Linked DNA regions of Homo sapiens: region 2 is linked to region 1. Evidence: fine-mapped expression QTL. A gene starts in region 1. The other region holds a variant in brackets. All regions are shown on one strand. Distances are from middle to middle.

Region 1 (2,910 bases):
TCCTCCCAAATCCCTGCCACTCAGAAGCAGCTGGGCTCTTCACCACCTCCTAATTTGGGCCGCCTCAGGGAGAAGGTTGGAGTCCAAGGGCTGGGTATATCAGCACTGGGCACTTGTGGGCCTCACCCCTCTTGTCTGGGGGCACCCGTTCCTGGAGCTCCATCTTCCATCAGCTCTAACTCCTTCCCAAACACACATCCCCTCCGCCCCACTCCTTCCCTCCCACGGCCTCTGCCCACCCCCCCTCAGTTTCTGTCCTCACCTACCAAAGACCACTTCCTCACACAGGGCTGATGTATGTGTCTGAACAGCACTCCCACTGGGTCCCAGGGGAAGGGCTGGGACATGGGAGGGGCTGGCCGAGGCCCACACTGATTGTCATCCTACATCTCAGCCTCTGTGAGACACACGATGACCTCTGGGTGGCACCCCCCTTCCCTTGGTGGCCCAGGCCAGAACCGGGGCCCTAATCCTTACCCCTCTCCTCTCCCTCCACCCACACATCCTATCAGTCACCAGGTGCCACCAAAATCCCAGTCCCTAAGCAGTGGCCGGGTCAGTCCCCACCTCTCCAGCTCTGGCCACAGCCAGGGGCTTCCTTGCCCCTCCCCAGCCCAGAATGACCCATTTCACGAGCACACCCGACCACGGCTCGCGGAGACAACCACTCCAGGCTCCCATCTCCCACCCTCCAATGCCTTGGCTTGGCGTCCTGGTCTCCCTCAGCTGCCGGGTTCCCCATCCCCACCGCTTCCCGTTTTCTCTATGGTGAGGTTCATCTGACTGTTGGGGGATGGGGGTACCGGGCTGCACCCGGCTTTGCACAGGCAGCTCCCTCTCCTCGCCTTTAATTTGCAAACGCCTCCTTTAAGAAGGTTCCAGGATCGTCTTCTCTGGGAAGGCTTCCTGGCCCCCAGGCTGGGTTAGGGCACCCTCTTTGTGTTCCCACATTTGCATTTTCAGCCCCACTGGGCTGGGGCGTCCGGAGGGGAGCTAGGGCCCTCCAACACCTGGGCGCCCACCGAAGGTTTGTCGAATGAAAGAATGACAATCCAACCATGGAAAGCACAAAACTGGTCCCTGATGACTTCGCCACGACCTCAGCGGGGCGGGACGAGTTAGGGGCGGGACCACGCTTGACGGACAGGCCCGCAGCCCACTGCGAGAGGACTGGGGCGGGCCGCCCCGCCCACCGGCCGCTGGATAAGGCTGCGCGCGGGGCCGTGGGGCGCAGGCTGCTGGAGAAGGCGCACCTGCTGCAGGTGCTCCCGGCCGCCCCGGACCAGCGAGCGCGGGCACTGCGGCGGGGAGGATGCTGCGCGAGCGGACCGTGCGGCTGCAGTACGGGAGCCGCGTGGAGGCGGTGTACGTGCTGGGCACCTACCTCTGGACCGATGTCTACAGGTGAGCCGGCCCACCGTGATGCCCGGGCCGAGATCTCGAGCCCAGAAATCCTGAGACGCGCTCAGACTCGGGGACGTGGACAGCCTTTGTCCAGCCCGAGTTGTCCCTCATCCCGAGCCCCCGAGCCCAGAAATCCTAAGAATCTCATCCAGAAACCTGACAACCCCCGAACCTTGTGTCCACCTTCCAGAAACCCTGAGACTCTCCCAGACCCCCTAACACAGCCTCAGCCCCAGCTCCCTCACAGACCCTCCCTTTCACCCGTAACCCTCCGTCTGGCCCTCTCCAGTTCTCCTCCCGGGGGACCTCACACCCCTTCAGCTTCCCTGCCGTCCTCTCCCCTTTCACTTCCCCTCCGCACCTCACTTCCCCTCGGACCCACCTCAACCCAGCCCCTCTCCTGCTTCCCACTCCCAGTTCAGCGGAGCTTCCGCGGAGACTTGCCGGGGACTGGGGCAGGACCCGAAGGGAGCTGCCCTGAGGCTGAATCCGGCCCTGGAGGTTACTCAGGCTCCGATTTCGCCCTGTGGGGGCTGCTGGTGGTTGCTTGTCCCCAGGCACTGGCCCTGAGCTCCGTGTCCCCAGATACCTTCCCCTGACTTCATTCTGAGACCACAGAGGGACAATATTCTACCCAGCTGACGACGGGGACTTGGGGTGTATAGCGGGGTACTTTGTTGGAAAAGGATCCTGATTCAGAGTTCTGCTCCCTCCCCTTCTCTCTGTCCAAGAACTTGGTAGAGTGCGGGATGTCCGAGACAGCTGAAGGTAGGGTAGGGCCCTACCACTCCCCCCGCAATCCCAGAAAGCAGCCAAGTCCAATGATCTGTCTCCCTGAGTAATGGGACGGGGCCTTGGAAAGGTGTGGCTGGTGTGAATGAAAGGGTGGGGTTATGCTGGGGTTTGATCTGCCCCCTCTATTCCAAGCATTTAAAACCTCCCCATTGCTAGGGTTGGAGGGGTCAGTGCTGGGGGCAGGGAGCATGCAGGACTCTGAGGTGGGACCCTGTGCTGACACCGGATGAGTCCCCTATCCTCTCTGCCTCAAGCTGAACTCACACGGAGGCACCATCGTGGTTTATGGCTCTCAAATCATCCTGACACCTGGAGCACCCTGCCTCTCCCAGGCCCCCACCAACCCATCATGTGTCTCCCCACACAGCCCTGGCAGCCCTCCCACCTGCCCAACCAGTCTCCTGCCACCGCTGCAGAGGCACTGGCCACGCTGATACCAACAAGCCCCAGGACTAGGGACCCACTCCATGCCTCTGTCCCTGGCCTCAACCTCTGCCTTCCCCTGGGCCTGGGCTTCAGTTGTCCCCCATGTAAACCTCAGAGGTGGACTGGGTGGTCTCTGAGAACAAGAACACAGCAGTGGAGGGTGGTCCAGGCTCTGGTGGGGTGCAAGAGCTCCCCTGCCTTCCCCACCCCCAGCCCTGAACTGGGCACCGCTAGGGAGTGGGCGCGGAGCCAGAGTGCTCAGGTCTCTAAGCCTCAGCTGTCACC
Region 2 (2,910 bases), 440 kb after region 1:
AAAAGTGTTTTTGCTAAATTTACAGTATATATAGATCCTTTCATATTATTTTACTAAGAATGTTTGAACTTTGCATATTTGACATAGTTCCTGGTAGGAATAGCACAGCTCAAACATTAGTTTTTCTACTTACCTCCTCTAACACGTGGTTTGTCTGGAGAGTTTCTAAAAATTCAGCTATAACCCCAGTTCATGTATTTACTGGTGATTGTTCTTGCTGAGGTAGTAACAGCCCAATCTTGGGCTGTTAAATCCTAGGAAATCTCGAATCATAGTGATTAAAATAGTTGGGGTAAAGTTGTAGCTTATATGCAATACTACTTGGAGGAATTCTTTTACTAATTTGTATTTAATGTGGAAATTGTATAGTTTCATTGATTTAATCATAAATAATGGAAATGGTCTTCAAGAAGTTTTATTTCATTTTTTTGCTTATACACTCTGATTCCTATAATACAGTGCTATAAGCTATGCACAGAAAATAAAATGTTTGAAATCCAAGAATAATGGTTCTTACTGCTAAGAGGGAGTAATAGTTATTACTAATGATTTTGATTGGGTTGCATTTTTGTTGCAATGTTTATTCCACTTGCAGTTAGAATATGAATATGTTTTATCACTAATGTGGCTAAATAACCAAACATTTGTGTAAAAAAAAAAAAAAAAGCCAAGATTTCATTGTTTGTTGAATATTTCTTAAGCATCTAGCCCCTAAAGAGACTGCTTCTTACCAAGCCTGTAAACTATGCATGATGGAAATTCTTGTATTTTATTTAGGAATGGCTGTTGGTTTACTTACCACATCTGTGGAATCATGGCTATAAATGTTTGCTTACAAACTAAAAAAAAAAAAAAAGAAAACCAGAAGAGAAGAAAAACACAGTCTCTCTCATTCTTGAGGAAGTGTAGTGTGGCAGTTAAGAGAAAAGATCCTGGGGCCAGACTTGTTGCTTCAAATCCCAATTTGTAAACTTTCCTATGCCCCAGTTTCTTCATATGTTAAAATAGTAATAAAGGAACTACCTACCCCATCAGATACTAATGTGAATTAAATGAGTAAATTCTTATAAAATGCTTTAGAACAGTGTCTGGCATCAGGTAAAATGCTGTGGATTAGTTCTCATTCTGACTACCACTGCCCCAATACACTGATGTTAACATGCTGATATATTTATTCGAAGTCTTATTTTCCTATGCCTATTTTTCACACAGTGGTAACCCAATAAACTTTTAAATTATAGTAAACTTTAGAGAGCATTAAACTTGCAGCATGCAGAAATAGCTTGTCCTGCGTTCTTGTGGCTATCCTAACTAGATAAGGCCATGTTAATGGCTTGAGAAACATCAGTGTGTGTGGAATGAACACAGGACGTTGGAGGATTTGAATTCAGGCTCTGCCATGTGCTAGTTTGAGTGATCTAGAACAAGCTGGTTTACCACCTCTCTTTAAGTTTTGGTTTCCCCAGTCAGTAAAATAGAAAGTGGTGAAACCTAACTTGTGGGTATAAGGAGGATAAGAAATACTGTATTTGAATGCCTAG[T/C]ACAGTGTCAGGGTTGAATAAAGTACGACTTCACCTTATTCCCTAGTAATTATTGTCCTCATGACCAAACCTGCCTCCTCTCAAAGGCAGTGGCCACAACAGCACATCCAACTTTTATTTAGGAAGACATCTTTGTCTTTTTTCAGAGCATGAGGAGCACAGCAGCCGCAAGGAAATGGTCCTGGTGGAGGGGCTGTGCTCTGAGCAGGGGCGCCGGGGCTGAACGCTGGCTAGTTCCTCTGAGAGGAAGCCCTTGGAGAATGAACTAGGGAGGCAGGAAGAGTTCTGGGTATATGGAAAGTCAGAAAACATCTGGGTCCTATGAAAGGACATCAAAGATCTGAAGGCCCAGCTGCAGAATGCCAACAAGGTCATTCAAAACCTCAAGAACCGGGTCCAGTCCCTCTTGGTTACAAGTGATTATTCATCTAGTCTGGAAAGACCCTGGAAGCTGAGAGCTCCTGACACCCTGGAGGGGTCTTCACCTCATAGTGTCACTGATGAGGATGAGTTGTGGCTGTCTGATGGCACTGGGGCTTTCTACTCTCCAGGACTTCAGGCCAAAAAGGACCTGAAGAGTCTCCTCCAGAGAGTATCCCAGCTGGAGGCCCAGCTCCCAAAAAATTTATCTAGGGACATATAATTAACATATATATAACAGTTGAAGAACAGTGGCATGGTAAATTTTTGTTTTGTTTTGTTTTGATACAGAGTCTCACTCTGTCACCCAGGCTGGAGTGCAGTGGTGCCATCTCGGCTCACTGCAACCTCTACCTCCCAGGTTCAAGCAATTCTCCTCCCTCAGCCTCCCAAGTAGCTGGGATTACAGGCATGTGCCACCATGCCCAGCTAATTTTTGTGTGTGTTTTTAGTAGAGGAGGGGTTTCACCATATTGGCCAGGCTTGTCACGAACTCTTGACCTATGATCTGCCTGCCTCAGCCTCCCAAAGTGCTGGGATTACAGGCATGAGCCACCACGCCCGGCCCATACTAAAATTTTTAGTGCGATACTTTATCAGGGTAGAATTTGCTGTTAAATGCCTCCTATGGCTTATGTGCCAGAATTCAGTTTGGGGGAGTTCCTTAGAGATGTTCTCATAGAAATCTCTACAGAAGCCCCCATAACTTATCATCCACCCTTTCCTCTTCTGTCCTGCATTAGGAAATATGATTCCCTGATTCAGGATCAGGCCCGGGAACTGTCTTACCTACGGCAAAAAATACGAGAAGGGAGAGGTGTTTGTTATCTTCTCACCCAGCATGCAAAAGATACAGTAAAATCTTTTGAGGATCTCCTAAGGAGCAATGACATTGACTACTACCTGGGACAGAGCTTCCGGGAGCAACTGGCCCGGGGAAGCCAGCTGA

Evidence for each region. PIP is the estimated chance that this variant, and not a neighbour inherited with it, causes the effect.
Region 2: its variant is the best candidate, but not a certain one, in a credible set for the expression of PADI2 in whole blood (INTERVAL, PIP 0.64).

What each region holds. Positions count from the first base shown.
Region 1 is chr1:17,117,774-17,120,683 of GRCh38, reverse strand. PADI2 (peptidyl arginine deiminase 2) reads left to right here and starts at 1,233. Exons shown (of 16, transcript NM_007365.3): 1 at 1,233-1,404. The coding sequence starts at 1,313. RefSeq lists an enhancer at 108-642 and a silencer at 1,214-1,423.
Region 2 is chr1:16,681,022-16,683,931 of GRCh38, reverse strand. It overlaps the pseudogene EIF1AXP1. Among named protein-coding and RNA genes, the nearest start is that of TRG-CCC4-1, 4.1 kb to the right of the region's middle. The variant T/C (reference allele first, on the strand shown) is at 1,542.